Linked DNA regions of Homo sapiens: all the other regions are linked to region 2. The links come from fine-mapping of genetic effects on gene expression. A gene starts in region 2. Each other region holds a variant in brackets. All regions are shown on one strand. Distances are between the middles of the regions.

Evidence for each region. PIP is the estimated chance that this variant, and not a neighbour inherited with it, causes the effect.
Region 1: its variant is fine-mapped to the expression of CCT4 in whole blood (INTERVAL, PIP above 0.99).
Region 3: its variant is fine-mapped to the expression of CCT4 in fibroblasts (GENCORD, PIP 0.95).

The regions. Positions count from the first base shown.
Region 1 is chr2:61,846,614-61,854,109 of GRCh38, forward strand. FAM161A (FAM161 centrosomal protein A) reads right to left here and starts at 7,447. Exons shown (of 7, transcript NM_001201543.2): 1 at 7,246-7,447. The coding sequence starts at 7,428. RefSeq lists enhancers at 6,931-7,060, 7,221-7,380. The variant T/G (reference allele first, on the strand shown) is at 5,519.
Region 2 is chr2:61,885,481-61,893,092 of GRCh38, forward strand. CCT4 (chaperonin containing TCP1 subunit 4) reads right to left here and starts at 3,176. Exons shown (of 14, transcript NM_006430.4): 1 at 2,901-3,176. The coding sequence starts at 3,027. It also overlaps a transcript of COMMD1 not described here. RefSeq lists enhancers at 2,204-2,765, 2,766-3,325, 2,867-2,946, 3,886-4,445.
Region 3 is chr2:61,672,788-61,680,399 of GRCh38, forward strand. No RefSeq gene overlaps it. Among named protein-coding and RNA genes, the nearest start is that of XPO1, 140 kb to the left of the region's middle. The variant G/GT (reference allele first, on the strand shown) is at 3,405.

The DNA of each region.
Region 1 (7,496 bases), 39 kb before region 2:
ATGCCACCCTTCTCGACTCTGCTTTGCAATGCCAGAGCTGGAACTCTGCAAACCACACTTCTGCTTTGCCAGTGCTCCTCATCAGACTCTGCTAAAAGTGGAGTTAGAGGGAGATACAAGGCTAGAGGAGAAAGATGGGACTTACTCCTTTCTGTTAGCCCTCTGACTGCTTCCTGTCGGCTTGTGTCAGTCTAGCAACGGTTATTCATCTGGGCAGCAGCAGTTCGTTTTAGTAGCAGTGTCTGAATCCAGTATGCAGTTTTCACTCGAAAAATCAACAGAATTGGCCAGGCACAGTGGTTCATGCCTGTAATCCCAGCACTTTGGGTCACTTGAGGTCAGGAATCCGAGACCAATCTGGCCAACATGGTGAAACCCCATCTCTACTAAAAACAAAACTTAGTCGGGTGTGGTGGTGCATGCCTATAATCCCAGCTACTCGGGAGGCTGAGGCAGGAGAATCGCTTGAATCCAGGAGGCAGAGGTTGCAGTGAACCAAGATCGCACCACTGCACTCTAGCCTGGGTGACAGAGTGAGGCTCCATCTCAAAAAAAAAGAAACAAAAATCCACAGAATTACTTCAAGGCCTTTGCACTTGCTGTTCCCTCTCCCTAGGATGCCTTTTCCTCCAGATATCCACATGACCCACTTGCTCACTCCTTCAGGTCTTTATGTAAATGTTGTCTTCTCAATAAGGTCTTCCCTGACTCTCCTATTTAAAATTACAACTTCTCCCAGGACTCACTGTCAGCCCCCTTGTCTGTCTTATTTTTCCCAGAAGTACTCATCACCATTGACGTCCTACATATCTGTACTTGATTGTGTATTATATGCCTGCCCCTACCAAAAAGTAAACATTACAAAGGTAAGAATTTGCCAGGCCTGATGGCTCAGGCCTGTAATCCCAGCACTTTGGGAGGCTGGGGCAGGTGGATTGCTTGAGCCCAGGAGTTTCAGACCAGCCTGGGTAACACGTCAAGGCCTCATCTCTACAAAAAATACAAAAAATTAGCTTGGTGAGGTAGTATGCACCTATAGTCCCAGCTAGTTGGGGGACTGAGGCGGAAGGATCACCTGAGCCCAGGAGGTTGGGGCTGCAGTGAGCTATGATGGAGGCACTGCACTCCAGCCTGGGTAACAGTGTGACCCTGTCTCAAAAAAACAAAACAAAACAAAAAGAAAGGCAAGGATTTGTCTGCTTTGTTTAATGTTGTGTCCCCAGTGTCTAGAAAAGTACCTGGCTAATGGCAGATGTTCAAGGAATATTTACTGAATGAATGAATGAATGTACAGAAAAAAAAAATTCCACCTTGGGAAGAGGGCAGTTACTCCCTCCCAAAAGAATGAACCATGCAAAGAAATGCTGGCTGCTCTAAAGAGCTATATTCCACCAAGTATTAAGAAAAAGGCCTATGTTCCAAAAACTATAATTAAAACAGGGAGGGTATTTCAAAGAACTGTTTTTAAGCAAAAGAATCTATGCGCTCTCATTCATTCTTTTAGAATATCTCTTAAAAATCATGTCTTATAGCAGTCATTTACACAAGAAGGATCAAATTTATTTGGACCTGGAAGAACCGTTTGAAAACCATATAGAAGAATGAGTAGCTTCTGAAAGATGCGGCAGGTCTGATAAATTATACTTATGTACTGATTTTGCACTGGATCCATTCTGTTTTCAGCTTAATACTGTTAACGCTAGCTGAAACTTTTCAGATAAACTGATCTCACAGTGTTTAACCTAAAACAGATGAATGGCTAGTAAATGACCTCCAATTCTAATTTAATCTTTAATTGTCTCCACTGAGAAAATATTTAGTATACAAAATAACCTAGGCCATAGACATTATTTTTCCAAGAGCCTAAAATAGCATCCTCTCCCTTTAATCGGCTTTTTGTGGAATGTTGTAAATGCAGCCACCAGATTAGAGGATAATCTTCCCTAGATTGGCTTGACCCATTTAGATAATGAATCCTTCCAGTACCTGTTGCTTTATTAGTAATCAGCACCTATGAAGAATTATTTGTGCTGCAGCCTATATAGTTTCATCTGCAACCTGTAATTTTTGAAAAAATTTTTTTCGCTGAATTTGTAAAGAATGAGAGAGATCTACATGTACTAACATGGGTAAACTCCCAATAAATAAGAAAAAAAAGCAAGTTGCAGAACTATCTCCCTCTCTCTGTCTATATATATATTTATATATATATATCTATATATATTTATATATATATTTATATATATATTTATATATATATTTATATATATATTTATATATATTTATATATATATTTATATATTTATATATATTTATATATATATATTTATATATATTTATATATATATTTATATATATATATATTTATATATTTATATATATTTATATATATATTTATATATTTATATATATTTATATATATATTTATATATTTATATATATTTATATATATATAAATATATATATTTATATATATATTTAAATATATATATTTATATATATATTTAAATATTTATATACTTATATATATTTATATATTTATTTATATATTTATATAGTATGTACTGTATATTAAAATATATGGAGGAGATAGAAAAACGGCCAGAGAATAGAATACATATCAATTTTGAAACAGTGGCTACCATTAGGGAGGGAGTAGGTATTCATATTTTCTCTTCTGGGGGAGAGTTGTTAAAAGGGCCTAAGCGTCATATGTAACATTTGATATTTTAAGAGAAGAATGTCACCTGGTATGGTGGCATATACTTCTAACCCGAGCACTATGGGAGGCCGAGGAGGGCGAATTGCTTGAGCCCAGGAGTTTGAGACCACCCTGGGCAACATAGTGAGACCTTTATTTTACAAAATAAAAATAAAAATAAAAAAATTAGGCCAGGATGGTGGCTCAGGCCTGTAATCACAGCACTTTGGGAGGTCAAGGCTGGCGAATCACTTGAGGTCAGGAGTTCAAGATCATCCTGGCCAACATGGTAAAACCCCGTCTCTACTAAAAATACAAAAATTAGCTAGGTGTGGTGGTGTGCACCTGTAGTCCTAGCTACTCAGGAGGCTGAGGCAGGAGAATCACTTGAACCCAGGAGGCACAGGTCTCATTGAGCCGAGATTGTGCCACTGTACTCTAGCCTGGTGACAGAGCGAGACTCCATCACAAAAAAAAAAAAAAAAAGAGAATGAAATCATGTCCTTCACAGCCACGTGGATGGAGCTGTAGGACATAATCTTAAACAAATTAACAGAAAACCAAATATCACATGTTCTCATAAGTGGCAGGTAAAATAATGAGTACACACGAACATAAACATGGAAACCACAGACACTGCGGGCTACCACCAGGTGGGGAGGGAGGGAGGGAGGGAGGGCGGCGTAGGTTGAAAAACTATCTATTGGGTACCATGCTCACTACCTGGATGCAATATACCCATGTAACAAACCTGCACATGCACCTCTGTATCTAAAATAACAGGTGAATTTAAAAATATAGGCCAGGCATGGTAGCTCATGCCTGTAATCCCAGTACTTTGGGAGGCTGAGGCGGGCGGATCACCTGAGGTCAGGAGTTGGAGACCAGCCTGACCAACATGGAGAAACCCCGTCTCTACTAAAAATACAAAATTAGCCGGGCGTGGTGGCACACGCCTGTAATCCCAGCTACTTGGGAGGCTGAGGCAGGAGAATCGCTTGAACCTGGGAGGTGGAGGTTGTGGTGAGCCAAGATCACGCCACTGCACTCCAGCCTGGGCAACAAGAGTAAAACTCCATCTCAAAAAAATATATGTGTGTGTGCGTTCGTGTGTATGTGTGTATATGTGTATGTATGTATGTATATCGACAGTGGAGCCAGGCACAGTGGCTCACGCCTATAATCCCAGCACTTTTGGGAGGCCAAGGCAGGTGGATCACTTGAGCCCAGGAGTTCGAGACCAGCCTGGGGAACATGGTGAAACTCTGTCTCTACAAAAAATATAAAAATTAGCTGGGCGTGGTGGCATGCACCTTTAGTTCCAGCTACTTGGGAGGCTGAGGTGAGGAGATTGATTGATCCTGGGAGGTTGAGACTGCAGTGACCTGTGACTGCACCAGTGCATTCCAGCCTGGACAAGAGAGTGAAACTCTGTCTCAAAAAATAATAAATAAAAAGTGGAGTCAGAAGAAAAACAATAGGTTCTCTCCTATTTATTTTTAATCATTATAGGCTGTTCATTTCTTTCCCAACATTTCCCATCTTATAGTTATGTGTCTGTTCATTTTTTGTTTTTTGAGATGGAGTTTCGCTCTTGTTGTCCAGGCTGGAATACAATGGCGTGATCTCGGCTCACTGCAACCTCCACCTCTCGGGTTCAAGCGATCCTCCTGCCTCAGCCTCCTGAGTAGCTGAGATTACAGGCATGTGCCACCACGCCCGGCTAATTTTGTATTTTTAGTAGAGATGGGGTTTCTCTATGTTGGTCACGCTGGTCTTGAACTCCCAACCTCAGGTGATCCACCCACCTCAGCCTCCCAAAGTGATGGGATTACAGATGTGAGCCACCGCGCCCGGCCCTGTTCATTTTTAATTGTCTGATTTCCCTCACCAGACTGAAAATTCTGTGAGGATGTGAGCTATATATACACTGAATAGTTAATGACTAGCACTTAATAAATGTTCAATATTTGTTGAAAAGATAAGGTTGCCCCATTAGGAGTGAGATTTTATTTTTTCTTTTTATTTATTTATTTTTTTGAGACATAGTCTCACTCTGTTGCCCAGGCTGGAGTGCAGTTTTTGCATCTCAGCTCACTGCAACCTCCGCCTCCCGGGTTCAGGCAATTCTGCCTCAGCGCCCCCTAGTAGCTGGGATTACAGGCGCGTGCCACCACGTCCGGCTACTTTTTGTATTTTTAGTAGAGACCGGGTTTTGCCATGTTGGCCAGGCTGGCCTCAAACTCCTGACCTCAAGTGATCTACCTGCCTCAGCCTCCCAAAGTGCTGGGAGGAGTGAGATTTTAATTGCGAATTACAGAATACTGCGTTACCTGTGTCATCATCAGTCATATAACAGGATATGTGGACCAACATCTCTGACTAAGGCTAGATTCAAGGAACAGGCATCAGTGCCCAATATGGGCACTGCAAGGGGGGTGCGTGTGTATGCCAGAGCTGGGAGGGTGTATAGGGATGGTGCAGGGGTTGGGGGGTTGGGGGGCAGTGTGGGGTGGGATGAGTGGTCTGGCTTTGGCAAAACCAAAGAGCTGAAAGAGGCCTATTGTGATGGGTGGTTCTCAAATCAATCTTGTGGGTTAGGTATAATATTTGACTTTACTACATTTTATAGATAATAAGGTTAAGGCAAATTAACCTTTAAAAATCAAGATGGAGACCCAAGCCAACCAGTGAAGAAAGCAGAGCCTATTTCCTGCACTCTTCCTGCCTTCTTAATGCCTCTTCCCCCAGCCTGTGCCCCCTGGCTATCAGGCCCACTGTGGCAGCTTACCCAGCTTTACTTTTGGATCCCTCATG[T/G]GTGGTGGTCTCAGAACAGTACCAAACTCTTAAGACTTGGCTTCCTTTTTTTTTTTGTAGGATCCTGTCCTTTCCAAACTAGATTATTGTATAAACTGATCCCTCCTAAGGTAATAACAGTTTCTAACACAAATTTGCAGTTTAACAGGGCACTGTGGAAGCATATCTGCAACTTAGAAGTGACTGACTCCTTTACCACAGCAAGCCAAAGTTGAGTTTAATCTTTGGGAAGGCACACAAATGACACTCCCACTGGCAACTCATTTACATAGATTGCTCTTTAGAGGAGACACACATTCTTTCATTTGGTTCTCATAGAGCTGAGATGGGAAAAAAGAGACAATTATTATAGTTATTTTACAGATAAGGAAACTGAGGTTTAAGGAAATTATGTCCTAACACCACCTAGGAAGTGGCAGGGAATGGATCCTAATACAGAACTCTTCAATCCTTTTTCTCCATCACGTTGCCTTGTTGCCTACTGAAAATTGTGTTGAGGGGTAGCTTCATCATGAACAAAATCGGTCCTAGCACTCTGATCCTGGTTCATGTTCAGGGTCTCAGTCTGCCTTACTCTGGATAACTTCAAGTTGTTTGTCTGTTGGTGAAAGATTGGTCACAAAAGGTGTTGCTAAAGATGTTCTCATTAACAATTTTACTGTAGATTAAAGAGATCAGAATTCCAAAATATCCAGTGATTTCAGTTAGTCCTCAATCATAAGTTTGGTGTCTGAGAAGCTTTGGACACATGGTATTAGGAAATTTTTTCTATCTGCAGATTGCTAGTTTAAATTCAAGATTCCCATCTTTTTTTTTTTTTTTTTTTTTTGAGACTGGGTCTGAGATCTCAGCTCACTGCAACCCTCACCTCCCAAGTTCAAGCGATTCTCCTGCCTCAGCCTTCCGAGTAACTAGGATTACAGGGGCGCACCACCACGCCCGGCTAAATTTTGTATTTTTAGTACAGACGGGGTTTCACCATGTTGGTCAGGCTGGTCTCGAACTCCTGACCTCGTAACCCGCCCACCTCGGCCTCCCAAAGTGCTGGGATTATAGGCACGAGCCACCGCGCCCGGCCAAGATTCCCATCTTTTAAGTGAATTGAGCAGATGGCAGACCCTGCCCTCTACCTGCTGGACTGGTGTCCACAACAGATTTAACAATGAAAACTGATCAGTGAAAAGGCCGTCTCGCTGTACCCTAAAGAGCTGTTTAGGAAACACTGAAACCTCAGTGATTTGCTTATCTGTATCCGTGTCTGATTTAGCCAGTGAACACGTGATGGTTTTAAACACACATCTTTAGAGCACTATGTTGAGATCCGCTTATAACCAAGATCTTAAGGTAATAACGAAACACACCTGACAGAACAGTTTTCCTCAAATTACTATATATAGCCAGATATATCTCTATATATCCATTCCCGAGATGCTGGAGAGTAGAGAGTAAAATTCTATACTTTGCACTTGCCAGAAGCAGAGTAACATAAATGTTGTCTAGGAAGCTTTTACAACAGACTGGTGAAAATTAAAACACTTTTCAACGCCTCGATTTAGAGTAATTTTCGTGAGCGTAGAGAAGGGGCTGGGCCAGGACCACCAAGTAGGGACTATGTGCACAGGGACCCGCGTTTACCAGCCTGCCCTCAGCTGGGCGGGGAACCGGACAGCCCTCAGCCTGCACCCAGCCCATGCGAGGTCCCAGCCCAAGTCCCGCCCCAGTATTACCGATGCCCCAGCGGGCTGAGCCACTTTCTCCTCCTCTTCGTCCTCCAAGATCGCCTCCGCTGCCGCCAGGGCCTTTAAGGGGTCTTCGCGTTCGTACTGGGCGACCCGCGCTCCAGTGATGGGATTTACCGGGGTCTGGAGACTGGAGGCCACCAGCTTCGCCACTCGGTGGGAGGTGGCCATCGCCCCGCCTCCGAGGCCTGAGCGCCTGCGCTGGCCCGGGACGGGAAAGCTGGTGCGGCCCCTGGCAA
Region 2 (7,612 bases):
GCTCACTGCAACCTCCGCCTCCTGAGTTCAAGTGATTCTTCCGCCTCAGCCTCTGGAGTAGCTGGGACTACAGGCACGTGCCACCACACCCAGCTAATTTTTTTGTATTTTTTAGTAGAGATGGGGTTTCACCATGTCGGCCAGGATGGTCTCAATCTCTTGGCCTCAAGATCCGCCTGCCTCGGCCTCCCAAAATGCTGGGATTACAGGTGTGAGCCACCACGCCTGGCCTAGTATTTGTAATCAGCTTATGGCAGAATACATTTTGAGGATTCATCTCATCTTCCTTCAGATGTCAAAATGGTACAATCTAGTTAGGAGCTCTGAGAATTGCTATTTCCTCCATTCCTAAAACAGGACAAGCAGCAACAGAACTGTCTAGATCTAAAATACTGATGGAGGAGTATCCTTTTTCCAAAATGATTAGGACCAGAAGTGTTTTGAATTTTGGAGTATTTCAAATTAGGAATGCTCAATTTACAGATAATTCACTTATTTGTTTACTCTGTCTAGTATGTAATCTCTGAGAGCAAAGACTTTTGTTCACTAATGTGAACATGGTAGATAGGTGGCCCGCCAACACCGCCAAAAGGGCAAACCACAATGGAAATGCTACAGAGCAAGATACTCTTCTAAAAAATCCAACAAGGCTGGGCGTGATGGCTCACACTTGTAATACCAGCACTTTGAGAGGCTGAGGCGGGCAGACCACCTAAGGTCAGGAGTTCGAGACCAGCCTGGACAACATGGCGAAACCCTGCCTCTACTAATACAAAAATGAGCCGGGTGTGGCGGTGCGCATCTGTAGTCCCAGCTAGCTACTCGGGAGGCTGAGGCAGGAGAACCGCTTGAACCCAGGAGGCAGAAGTTGCAATGAGCAGAGATCACACCACTGCACTCCAGCCTGGGGGACAGAGCAAGACAGACTCCATCTCAACAAACAAACCAAACCTAACAAACCAAACAAAAACCAAAACTCTCAAATCATAGCTTTTGGTCATCATCAGTATGTTATAAAACATCTCTGGGGCCGGGTGCGGTGGCTCACGCCTGTAATCCCAGCGCTTTGCGAAGCCAAGGCAGGCCGTCACTTGAGGCCAGGAGTTTAAGACATAACGGGTCATCTTCACAGATAACTTAGGTGGCCTTTCCTTCCCACATGCACACCCTCCTCTGTTGTTTCAGTTCTTTGTCTGCTTTTGTTTCAAAGGTTGCTAAATTTCCCACTTATTTTGTTTGTTGAATATCAACCATATTATAAACTCTCTTGGCCCCCAAATTTATCTTTTTTTTTTTTTGAGACGGAGTTTCGCTCGTCACCCTGGCTGGAGTGCAATGGCGCGACGTCAGTTCACGGCAACCTCCGCCTCCCAGGTTCAAGCTATTCCCCTGCCTCAGCCTCCCGAGTAGCTGGGACTACAGGCCTACGCCAACACACCCACCTAATTTTGTATTTTTAGTAGAGACGGGGTTTCTCCATGTTGGTCAGGCTGGTCTTGAACTCCTGACCTCATGTGATCCGCCAGCCTCAGCCTCCCAAATTGCTGGGATTACAGACGTGAGCCACCCTGCCCGACCCAAAATTTATCTTTCAACATTCTGTTCCTAATCTAATAAATGTAAGCTTCAACTATGGTCCCTAGACAATTATCCTACAAACCTTCGTTTCCAGGTGTATTATCTCCTAAACTTACAAATGACTCCTAAATCTGGCCATTCTGACCTTTCCAACTCATTAGGACAAGTTAGAAACTATTACTTTTTCTTACATCCAGCGTTACCTATCTTAGCGCCATCACATTCCCAGTTACTTGGGCTGATGACTGCAAACACATGTAAGGTGTACTTTATATACGTGGGTCTTTATATGCTTTCTCACTGAATCCTCACAGCAAGCCTACACGATGGCTAAAAAGAAATGATCCCATAGCTGGGGGAGATTAAGCCAAATACTTTCCAGGACACCAGGCCTTTAACATCTGCCCCAACCTAGCTTTCTAATCTCACCTCTTCTGTAAACATACTACTATTCTCCAACCCAAAAGAACTACTATACTCAATATACACTCGGGCAAGATCTCTAAACCTCTGTCCTGACTTTTCCTTCCAGATTTTTCTATTTCAACTCGATTTCTCTTAATCTTAACTCTAAAAAGCAAACATTTTCCTCCAATTTTATAAGTGAATCTTTGGCACAGAGGTTACAGGTCACTAAGACATGAAGTAACGGAAGCAGAGAATGAAACTCTGGTCTTCCTGATTTCCAACGTGTGCCACACACTTCCACAAAAAAAACAAATAATTGTTTCTTGATTTGCCTATGTTTCACTGCACATGCGGAGACGACATCAACGTAACTTTTCCGCAACTATTTCAAACACGACACGTAAGTCGGTTCCCACATCCATCCCAGTACAATGGGCCCCGCCCCAATTTAGACTCGGAGAGTTCACCCAATTCGTCTCAACAGTTGTGCCAAGTGAAGTTTATTTAATAGTTCTTTAAATAAGAATAACAAAGCTGAAAGATACTGTGCATTCTACCAGTTCCAATAAGCAATAAGCGACAGCCCTCAAGCGTCAGATCCCTAGTGAAGACTGCATGCAATCCTCGGCATTTTGAACTGCTTTCGGCTCCAATATGAATGATGCACAGTGCAGGATGAAAAACTAAGGGAGATTAAGATGCAAAATGGGGCAAGTCCAAAGGCCTCCATACTCCGGGTTGGCGATCATCGGCAGAAAAACAGAAATAAGGATCCCTCCACTGGGCTGCTTCTATAGGGAGGACAAGAGAGGATCACCCGAAGAAATGGGAAATGAGCCAAACCCGCTCAAGCCCACGATGAGAGCGCAGAGCACAACCCCGCGGCGCCGCGGGTCAGGCCATGAGAGTGATACCTTTGGCGGCGGAAATGTTGCTGAAGCGGATCTGGGCTGGCTTGTCGCGGTCCTGATAGGCGCCTTTCCCGCGGCCGCCGGCAGCCCCGGCAGTCGCCCCGCTCCGGGGTGCCACATTCTCGGGCATGGCAAACTCCGCTGTGTCTGGGTTGGCTCGGGAAGGACGGATGGACCCGGATTCTGGCCGGCCGCAGTGTAATAACGGTAAGCCCTCACTGCCTTCACGAACCTTCCAGAAAGCGGCGCCGGCGTCGGGAGGAGGCGGAGGCGGAGAAGGGGGCCTTCCTTGCCGCGCGGCGCTGGCGTGACGTAGGAGGCTGTCCGCTGCGCGCCGGGCGAGGAGGATGCGTGCGGTGGGCTCCGGGCTGGCGAGATTGTACGCCCGGGGCGCTGTGGGTGAAGAGCGCCGGGGGAACCTTTACGCGAGGCAGCAATGACAACGCGCGATTTTAAAGGCGAGTGGTGAGGACATCCGCATTTCCTCACTCCACCTTGCACGGCTATGAGGTCCCCTCCTTTTTTTTTTTTTTTTTTTCTTTTTTTGGATACAGTCTCACTCTGTTGCCCAGGCTGGAGTGCAGTGGCGCAAAATCTCGGCTCACTGCAGCCTCCGCCTCCCAGGTTCAAGCGATCCTCCTCAGCCTCCCGAGTAGCTGGGATTACAGGCGTCCGCCACCATGCCCAGCTAATTTTTGTATTTTTAGTAGAGACAGGGTTTCACCATGTTGGCCAGGCCGGTCTCGAACTCCCGACCTCAGGTGATCCACCCGCCTCGGGCTCCCAAAGTGTTGGGATTACAGGCGTCAGCCACGAAGCCCGGCCTTTTTTTTTTTTTTTTTTTTTTTTGACAGAGTCTCGCTCTGTCGTCCAGGCGGGAGTGCAGTGGGGCGATCTTGGCTCACTGCAGCCTCGACCTCCGGGGCCCAAGCGATCCTCCCGCCACAGCCTCCCAACTAGCCAGGACGACAGGTGCCCGCCACCATGCCTAGCGAATTTTTGTATTCGAAACATAGCGAGACTGGGTTTCGCTGTGTTGCCCAGGCTGGTCTGACCTCCCCGGCTCAAAGCGGTCCACCCTCCTCAGCGTTTCAAAGTACTGGGATTACAGGCGTGAGCCACCGCGCCCACCCGGAGGTGCCCTCCTTTAACTCCGGCTGGATCTATCCGCGAGGTGGGGTGGGCGCCGGAATAACTCTCTAAGGGATATGACTGAGTCTGTTTTTGCCCGGCCACATAGACCTGCATTTTATGCAGTTTTGTTCATTTTGAAAGGGAGTCAGAAAAGGGAGATTTGGAATGAGGCGAGGTTAGTTATCTCGTATTGGTTGATACTGGGTGGTGGAGGTTTGACAGACTGCCAAATCAGGTCTGTCTAGTTACCACCGCCCGCTTGTTCTACACTAGTGTCTCCTGCATGACGTAGCCACTGACTCTTAGGGAACGTAAACATTATAATAAAGATCATTTATTTCCGTTATCTGCTAAGCACAGTGCTAAACCTTTACACGTTTTATATCTCGTTTAGTCCTCACAATAATCCTTTACTTAAAAGGTGAGAGAACTGGAGCCCAAAGAAGGAACTGAAGCCCAGGGTAAACGAGTCAGTAGATAGAAGCAGTATTCCAATACAAAGCAAGGACCAGAAGCCATGAGCTAAACTGCTGGTCTCCTATGACCACTATATTTCAGTAGGGAAGTTTATGAAATGAGGTTTGTTGAATGTTCGCTCACAATTATTAAGCACCTGCAAAGTGACAGTTGCGTGTGGTAGGTTCAGAAACAAATGTTCAAAGGTACTTAATCTTGTAATTATGAGGTGGTGGTGGTGTTGTTTGTTTGTTTGTTTTTGTTTGTTTTTGAGACGGAGTTTCACTCTTGTTGCCCAGGCTGGAGCAGTGGCACCATCTCGGCTCACCGCAACCTCCGCCTCCCGGGTTCAAGCGATTCTCCTGCCTCAGCCTCCCCAGTAGCTGGGATTACGGGCATGCACCACCATGCCCGGCTAATTTTGTATTTTTAGTAGAGACGGGGTTTCTCCATGTTGGACAGGGTGGTTTCGAACTCCCGAGCTCAGGTGATAGGCCCGCCTCGGCTTCCCAAAGTGCTAGGATTGCAGGCTTGGCGAGAGCCACCTCGCCAAGTTGTTCTTTAACACACATTTAGCATATTAGCACTAGGGGCCTGGCTCAGTAGCTCACGCCTGTAATCCCAGCACTTTGGGAGGCCGAGGTGGGTGGATCGCTTTAGGTCAGGAGTTTAAGACCAGCCTAGCCAACGTGGCGAAACCCCGTCTCTACTAAAAATCAAAACATTAACCGGGGGTGTAATCCCAGCTACTCGGGAGGCTGAGGCAGGAGAATCCCTTGAAGCCAGGAAGTGGAGGTTGCAGTGAGCCGAGATTGCGCCACTGCACTCCAGCCTGGGTGATAGAGCAAGACTTTGTCTCAAAAAAAAAAAAAAAAAAAAAAGAAGGATATTAGCACTAGGAAATGAAGATCCATAAACCTCTGAGGCCGACTTCTCTTCAGAGGACCAGAATACTCCCAAGTAGCACATAAATTCTATGGTTATTTGTTTAGACAACTGATGTAATATGTTGGAAACAAGTGGGTGATGAGGAAATGCATTAATTTTGGGATGTAAAATACTGGATTTGAGTTTATTAATAGCTCTGCTACTTATTAGCTATGTGACCTAAGGAAGGCCACTTAAATCCTTTGGGTCTCATTTTCCTCATCTGTAAAATAGGAGGGTTGAACTAGATGATCTCTAGGGGCTTACTAAACTACTAGTTCTACCAGTGTAAGGAGTCGATCTGTCAGCCATAAAGGACAGAGCAGAATTTGGAAGATGCCATTATTGGCTTCTTGGGAGAGTCTTAAAGTTTTGAGACATGCTTTAAGTATCTGAAATGTTTCAAGTTACAAACATTTCTTTTTCTGTGAAATTGGAATTATTTTTGTTCGTGGGATTAGGCAGTAAATAAATGTTAAACATCGGCTTTCATCAGAGTGTTAATGTACATTATTTCTCCATTAAAATGGGATTTCAACAAATATTAAAACCTAAACATGGCCGGGCGTGGTGGCTCACACTTGTAATCCCAGCACTTTGGGAGGCCAAGGTGGGTGGATCACAGGAGTTCAAGACCAGCCTGGCCAAGATGGTGAAATCCCATCTCTACTAAAAATACAAAAATTAGCCAGGCGTGGTGTCAGATGCCTGTAATCCCAGCTGTTCGGGAGGCTGAGGCAGGAGAATCACTTGAACTCGGGAGGCAGAGGTTGTAGTGAGCCGAGATCATGCCACTGCACTCCAGCCTGGGCGACAGAGTGAGACTCCATCTCAAAACAAAACAAAAACATAAACACTTGTGTAGAGTACTTTAAGCAAAGCACTGTTGCTAATGAAGGGTAAAAATGTTTTTAAAACTTTCTGATATTTATTTTTTATTTATTTATTTATTTTTGAGATGGAGTCTCGCTCTGTCACCCAGGCTGGAGTGCAGTGGCACAATCTCGGCTCACTGCAAGCTCCGCCTCCCGGGTTCACGCCATTCTCCTGTCTCAGCCTCCTGAGTAGCTGGGACTACAGGCGCCCACCACCAAGCCCGGCTAGTTTTTTGTATTTTTAGTAGAGAGGGGGTTTCACCGTGTTAGCCAGAATGGTCTCGATCTCCTGACCCGGTGATCCGCCTGCCTTGGCCTCCCAAAGTGCTGGGATAAAAGGCATGAGCCACCATGCCCGGCCAGCTTTCCTATATTTAAAAAATACTTTCCAAAACAAAACAAAACCAAACAAACAAAAATACTTTCCTGTCAGATCCAAGCAGACGTAAGGCATATGTGGGAATGTTGGCAATAACAATACAATTTCCTTAATAATTTATGAAATAGGTTTTACAAAACAATAATACTTTGTCAGCCATCCAAATGAAGGTTCTCTTTAGAATGAATAGCCCACGATGTCCTAGACCCTCAATAATAGGACTGAGCCAGGAACTGGTTAAGGTTAGAAAAGAAGAGAGGAGGGGCCAGGTGCGGTGGCTCATGCTGTAATCCCAGCACCTTGGGAGGCGGAGGAGGGTGGATCAGCTGAGGTCAGGGGATTGAGACCATCCTGGCTAACACGGTGAAACCCTGTCTCTACTAAAAATACAAAAAATTAGCCCGGTGTTGTGGCATGCACCTGTATTCCCAGCTACTGGGGAGGCTGAGGCAGGAGGATCGCTTGAACCTGGGAGGTGGAGGTTGCGGTGAGCCGAGATCGTGCCATTTCACTCCAGCCTGGGCAACAAGAGGGAAACTCTGTCTCAAAAAAAAAAAAAAGAAAAGAAAAGAAGAGAGGGCTGTATGTATCTTATCTCTCTTAGGTTTTACTCCAATTCAAAGACAGTGTTTGTTGTTATTTTGTATTTTTCTCTGCATTAGTTTATTATCGAGACCACCATTAAGCCCCGTTTTCCTAAGCCTTACTGTTTGCATCGTTCTTTTTTTTTCCCCCCTGAAACGGAGTCTCGCTCTGTCGCCCAGCCTGGAGTGCAGTGGCGCAATCTCAGCTCACTGCAACCTCTGCTCCACGGGTTCAAGTGATTCTCCTGCCTCAACCTCCCGAGTAGCTGGGACTATAGGCATGCGCCACCGTGGTCGGCTAATTTTGTATTTTTAGTAGAGACGGGGTTTCACCATGTTGGCCAGGCTGGTTTCGAACTC
Region 3 (7,612 bases), 210 kb before region 2:
ATAAACATTTAAATACTATGAAAAGTAGTGAAAAATACTCGGAGAAGTAAAAAGTTAGTTTTTTTTTCTTTTTCTGTCTTTATTTTTTATTTTTGCCTTACAGATTTCTAGGAATATAAAAAAGTTTTTTATATAATAATTCCAGGCCCGGCGCAGTGGCTCATGCCTGTAATCCTAGCACTTTGGGAGGCTGAGGTCAGGAGTTCAAGACCAGCCTGGCCAACATGGGGAAACTCTGTCTCTACTAAAAATACAAAAATTAGCCAGGCATGGTGGCAGGCGCCTGTAAACCCAGCTACTCGGGAGGCTGAGGCAGGAGAATTGCTTGAACTTACAAAAAATACAAAAATTAGCCGGGCATGGTGGCACACACCTATAATCCCAGCTACTTGGGAGGCTGAGGCACAAGAATTGCTTGAGCCTGGGAGGCGGGGGTTACAGTGAGCTGAGATTGCGCCACTGCACCCCTGCCTGGATGACAGAGTGAGACTGTCTCAAAAAAAAATGTGTATATATATATATATATATATACACACATTATATATATATATATAAATATATATGTATATACATGTATATATATATATACGTGTACACATATATATATATATATATACACGTGTGTGTGTGTATATATATATATATATATATATAATGAATTCCACAATTCCAGAGATAACCATTGTTAGGGCAAATGAGTATTACTAAAATTTATTTTATTTTATTTTATTTTTTGAGTCAAAGCCTGGTTCTGTCATTGAGGCTGGAGTGCAGTGCCCCTATATTGGCTCACTGCAACCTCTACCTCCTGGGCTCAAGCCATTCTCCCATCTCATCCTCCCAAGTAGCTGGGCCTACAGGCACATACCACCACACCCAGCTAATTTTTGTATTTTTTGTAGAGATGGGGTTTTGCCATGTTGGCCAGGCTGGTCTCTAACTCCTGGCTTCAAGTGATCTGCCTGCCTCAGCCTCCCAAAGTGCTGGGATTACAGGCGTGAGCCACTGTGCCTGGCCTTGGAATTTTAATAATTATTGCTACATTTCCCTCTAAAAAGTTTGTATCTATTAATACCCTCACCAATAGTGGATGAGGTTGCTTGTTTTCCCACATATTTGCCAACATTGGATATTTTCATTCTTTTAAATCTTTGCTGGCCAGGTGCAGTGGCTCATGCCTGTACTCCCAGCACTTTGGGAGGCCGAGGCGGGTGGATCACCTGAGGTCAGGTGTTCAAGACCAGCCTGACCAACATAGTGAAACCCCATCTATACTAAAAATACAAAAATTAGCTGGGCATGGTGGCTCACGCCCATAGTCCCAACTACTCAGGAGGCTAAGGCAGGAGAATCGCTTGAATCTGGGAGATGGAGGTTGCAATGAGCTGAGATCACATCATTGCACTCCAGTCTGGGCGACAGAGCAAGGCTGTCTCAAAAAAGAAAAATCTTTGCCAATCTCATGGGAGAAAAATAACATTGAGCATCTTTTCATTTTGTGATGACCATTTGATTTCTTTGCCCCTAGTTTGAAATGTTCCCTTTATCATAACTCACCAGTGCATCCCCAGCAGCTAGCACATAGGAAGCTCTCAATAAATCAAGGAATGATCTATTGCTGCGCTTTTGAAGAAAAAAATGGCATGATCACGTCTGTGTTTTAGACCACTGTGCTGATGACAGTATAGAGAAAGGGCTGAGAACAGAAAACCATTGAATTCATGGTTTAATGTTGAAAGAAAAACTTTAGGCAAAGTCAATTTAATAGAGTATAATTGAGCAAAAAATGATTCACAAATTGGGCAGCACATCCCACCCCCAACTATGATAGGTTTAGAGAGACTTCTGGGGTGCCACGTGTTCTGACGGGATTTATGGACAGAAAGAGGAATGTGACACAGAAAATGGAAGTGAGGTACAGAAACAGCTGGATTGGTTATAGCCCTGATGGTTGTCTTACTTGAGCGCTGTTTGAACAGCTGGCCACCTGTGATTGGCTGAAGTATGGTTCTGTGATTGGTTGAGACTCAGCTCTTTGTTACAAGTGTAGTTTACAGTCTATTTACACATCTAGTTAGGTTTAAGTTCACTGTATGGTGTAAGCTTTTGGCCAAACTTAAAATACTTAAGAAGCTTTAGTTAAATTTAATCTATCATACCATAGTCAGAAAATCATTAAATTTTTTCAGGAAAGAAATGGCAAGTGCCTTACTTAGGGTAGTGCCATGGGGATAAAAAATGGGAATGGCTATGGAGCATGAGAGGTGTGGAATTGAGAAAGCTTGGTGCCCATTTAAGCAGGCAAGAGGATGAAAGTCAAAGATGTGTTAAAGAAGACTGGGGTTTCTAGCATCAAGGAACAAAATTACAAATTTAAAGATCTCAGTTGGCTTTGTTTGAGATTCTAGAATCAGGCAATATTTTATTCCATAAAATATAGTAGGTGTTTGGATTGAAACTGGCCTAATTGTCCCATAAAACTGATGTTTATGATTTCTTTTGAATAAACATAGAAACTGACACTCACAGTCTTAAAACTTGAGAAAGTTACATTTGTCTTATCTGAGTTCCTTTCTCAGGAAACCAACCATCAGGCCTCCCATATAGTACCAAGGAGCTGAAAGTTACCAGATCATTGCATCTGGACAAAGAGACTCAAGACTTTTTACCCATCATGATTGCCTAAATGACAACCTGCTTCCTGTTGACCAACTTATTTTCCTTACCTCTGCCTAATTCCTGTGTTTTGCATATAGTTACATTTCTTCCCTGCTACAGAAACCTCTGATTTTAGTTGGTCAGGGAGATGGATTGAAGACTGATCTCCCATCTCCTCAGATGCAGGACTTGATTCAAAGCCTTCTTCCCTGGCAATACTCAATGCCTCAATGATTGGCTGTCTGTGCACCAAGCAGCAGCACCTAGACCAAACCCTTGGCGTTTTAGTAGCATGCATGATAAGCTGAGCAGAAGAGATTGGCTTTATAGACAGAGAAAGGCTGAAGAAAGCGGAAGAGAGCAGAAGCAAAGAACACAGAATATTAGTTATTTCAAAGCAACTCTTCTTATAAGGTGGGAACAGGAGGCTAAAACAACAGAAAAACAGCTTATTAATGTCAGATTACATCAGGCTATTTCTTTTGTATAAGGATTAAAGCAGAGGGAACTTCATTATCATGTGGATTGAAGATTGAAACTGGCCTGTTCGAGGAAATTGGCTGTTATCTCTTTCTCCTGCCTTCTAGGAAGGTGAGATAAAAACTTAGTGTGGGTTTGATGACTTAGAACTTTAGCATGGGTGACTCCATTTTTTTTAGCCTTGTCTGTTGGGGCCTAGTACAGGAGCTTAGTCCAAAACAATGGCTTCCAATAATTTTTATTTCTACTAGCTTGGGTGGTTGAGT[G/GT]TTTTTTTTTTTTTTTTTTTTTTGAGATGGAGTCTTGCTCTGTCACCCAGGCTGGAGTGCAGTGGCACGATCTTGGCTCACTGCAAGCTCCACCTCCCAGGTTCAGCCATTCTCCTGCCTCAGCCTCCCGAGTAGCTGGAACCTCAGGTGCCTGCCACCATGCCTGGCTAATTTTTTGTATTTTTAGTAGAGATGAGGTTTCACCGTGTTAGCCAGGATGGTCTTGATCTCCTGACCTCGTGATCCGCCTGCCTCGGCCTCCCAAAGTGTTGGGATTACAGGCGTGAGCCACTGCACCTGGCCAGTTGAGTGAATTTTGATATAGTTAATGGAAATATGGAACCCATAATGAGACCTACCTTCTCCTATCCTACTGCTTGTGATGTTGTTCTCATTTCCTCTTGCTTTAATTATGATAGTGTCCCATCAGTTTCCTTATTTTGCATCTCTGATGTATACTTTTCCACCGGAGTCCTCTGCCTGGAAGTGTGTTCAAGTTGCCCCTTTCCTCAACTACACTATTATTGTAGTCTTTTCTTTATTACCTCCATTGCCTCACTTTTTTTTTTTTTTTTTGAGATGGAGTCTCGCTCTGTGGCCCAGGCTGGAGTGCAGTGGCACAATCTTGGCTCACTGCAAGCTCCGCATCCTGGGTTCACGCCATTCTCCTGCCTCAGCCTCCCAAGTAGCTGGGACTACAGGCGCCCGCCACCATGCCTGGCTAATTTTTTGTATTTTTAGTAGAGATGGTGTTTCACTGTGTTAGCCAGGATGGTCTGGATCTGCTGACCTCGTGATCTGCCTGCCTCTGCCTCCCAAAATGCTGGGATTACAGGCGTGAGCCACTGTGCCTGGCCCCTACCTCACTTTTTTTAAACCACCACTCATCATACATTAATTCATCCACTTATTTATGAATATTTATGGAGAGCTTTCGATGTGCTAGTGTTAAATTAAGTTTAGCCTAAAGCTGTCTCTTTACATATTTTATTTTATTTATTTTTTGAAACAGGGTCTCACTCTGTCACCCAGGCTGGAGTACAGTAGCGGCAACATGGCTTACTGCAGTTTTGACCTCCCAGGCTCAGGTAATCCTCCCACCTCGGCCTCCCAGGTAGCTAGGACCACAGGTGCATGCCACTGCACCTGGCTAATTTTTTGTAGAGATGGGGTTTTGCCATGTTGCCCAGGCTGGTCTCACATTCCTGGGCTCAAGGGATCCACCCACCTCAGCCTCCCAAAATGCTGGGATTATAGGCATGAGCTGGCACACTCAGCCATATTTACATACATTAAAGGTTTCTCTGTACATAGTGAACTGTAATCTAACTGGATGTGTAAACAGACCATAACTGAAACTGTCTTTGCAAAGATTATGACAGAGAAATCTGACATGGCTGACTTGATCTTGCTTCTATCCTCAGGCTGGCTATGTCTGCTCATTCCTGGACATACGGCAAGCTAACCATGGGAATAATTTAGTATATTTATTTACTTATTTATGTTTGAGATAGGGTCTTACTCTGTTGCTTAGGCTGGAGTGTGACTTCCCCAGTTGCTTCTAGAGATAACATCACTATTGTGAACCTAAGATTGGTCTTTTGAGATGTATTTCAGACTTTTGCATTATGGCAACTGACTGACCCCACCCAGACTTGTGACTGTTGACCCAGCTGGTCCTGTGGCCCCCTACCCTGAGGTGGACTCGGCACACAAGGACTCTTTTCCACAACCCTGTGATTGCATTCCTAACCAGTCAGCAGCACCCATTCCCTAGTCCTTTGCCCACCAACCTATCCTTGAAAAACCCTAATCTCCAAGCCTTTGTGGAGACTGATTTGAGTAGTAACTCTATCTGCCATGTGGCTGGCCTGGCATTAATTAAACTCTTTCTCTACTGCAATACATGGCCTCAGTGAACTGGTTTTGCCTGTGTGATGGGCAGGGAGAATCCATCAAGTGATTACATAACCTACTCTGGTGCCAATCACCAAGTGTTGGCTAATCAAAGGTGGCCAGCTGTTCAAACTGGGTTCAAATAGGGCAAATGCCAAGCTGTAACCAATCTGTTTTTGCACCTCATCTGTACCTGACCTTTCTTTTTCTGTCCATAAAACTTCTTTGTCCAAGCAGTAGCACCAAACCCTCTCTGAACCTGTTCTGGTTTGGGGGCTTCCCAATTCATGAATTGTTCTTTGCTCAATTAAATTCTGTTAAATTTAAGTGTTGAAGGTTTTTCTTTTAACACTAGTTATGGTTCTAGGGTTTGGGGAGCACCAGCAAATAAAAGAGGCAACAATCTCTGCTTTCTTGGAATTCACATACTGTTCTACTTACTCCTTATTTCCTTTTATGTACTTCCACCATTTTCCTGGAATTTTTATTCTGAAGGTTGATGCTGACTTCAAGATCATTAAATCCAAGAGTCATTTCTTGGTCTCTTTGTGTTGACCCACTCTCTTTTCCTTTAGCTTCTTTAACTCTTGTCTCCACCTCTTCTGCTCTTCTTTCTATTCCCTGGATGCTTTATTTATGTTTCCTTCTCTGCCTTTCCTTCATTTGTTTCCCCCATCTTCCTACTCATGTTTCAAGGACCGAAGCCATGCTCACAGGGTTAACAAGAATTCTGGACAGAAATATAGTTATTATTAAGCACTAATCAGCCTGCACTTTGACTGACTTCCTTGTAAGTGAGTCTCTAGACACGGATGACACTAGATACTGTTTGCATTCCCACTGTTCCTATAGACAGGATTTCTGAAGTTAGATAAGATCTCTGATGTTAGAATCGTAAGATTTTATTTAAGAATTGCGTAAGTGAATCCTGAATTCCAGTAGACCAGCTGATGCCAATCAGTTTAAAGACCCCCCCACAGAAAAAACAAATCGGCATTAGAATATCATTTCCTCATCTTTCTCTCCCATGACTTTCCCTGCACTTGTCAGCCAATCAACAATCTCCACACTTCAGCCCACTCAAAAGCCCTTAAAATTCCTAGCCTCAGACTCCTCAGGAAGATAGATTTGAGGTTTTGTCCTGTTTCCTTGTTAGACAGCGCTACAAGTAAACACCTGTCTCTGCTGCAACACTGTGTCTCGGTGTGTTGACTTTCGGTGCACATTGAGCAATGGACCTATTAGGGCTACAGGACTAGCTCTCAGGACATTTGACTTGCACTGTAGCTACTCGGTTGTGTGTTTTATCTAGTCCATGGTTTCCTGAAGTATTTTCCATTGAACAGAAGTTCTTTAGATTGTTAATAGATGCTATATAACAAACGGGTTTGGTGATCACATTCTTTTGGGAAACTCTGAGCTTCTCTATGGCAGAACTTCTTAGAGTAATAAACATGCTCGTGAGAATTATGAACCACCTACAGAAGAAATGATATATGGTACCATGTTCCCTCATGTCTTTGATCATAGAACCTTATTTTTGAGTTGTATTTTGCAGGACTTCTGAAGAACACACTTCAGAAGACACTATGCTAGACAATAAGCTCTTTGAGAGCCAAGACCTTACTATATCTATTTGTTCATATATTCCCTAGAGAACTCCAAAGAATATTTTGGTTCTAGTAGGTATTCAATACACTTCAATAAGTACAGACTAAGTTGAAGGGATTCCAGGTACAAAAGTGAAAGGGCAGGAAAGCAGGGGTCATATTTAGGAACACTTGATTTAGTGGGGCAATAAATGATGAGGAGAAATCCTATAAACAATTATGTACCAACAAATTAGATAATTTATTCATAGAAAGATACAAGCTAACAAAAATTAACTCAAGAAGAAATAAACAATTTGAATAGGTCATAACAAGTAAATACATTTAATTAATAATAAAAAAAGCCAATCACCAAGAAAATCCTGGGCCCAGATGGCTTCACCACTGAATTATAACAAATAAAGGTACAGTAGGTACCATCAAGCCTGTGGATGGACGAATGGGAACTTTACCCATCAGTAATGGACTGCTAAAGGTTAGAAGAGGAGAATGACACAGTCAGGGCAGGCCAAATTCCTCTTTCCAAACAGAGATGCTGCTGACCTGCCTGGATCATCGACACTCCTAAACTGGGCTGGGCCAGATTGGTTCTGGATGTACTGGACACAGGTTCTGTGACATGCACTGTTTGATCAGACATGAAATTCAAGGCTGTGAGGTAGTCTCATCGTTCTGAGCAGGAATGTGGTATCAGAAATAGTC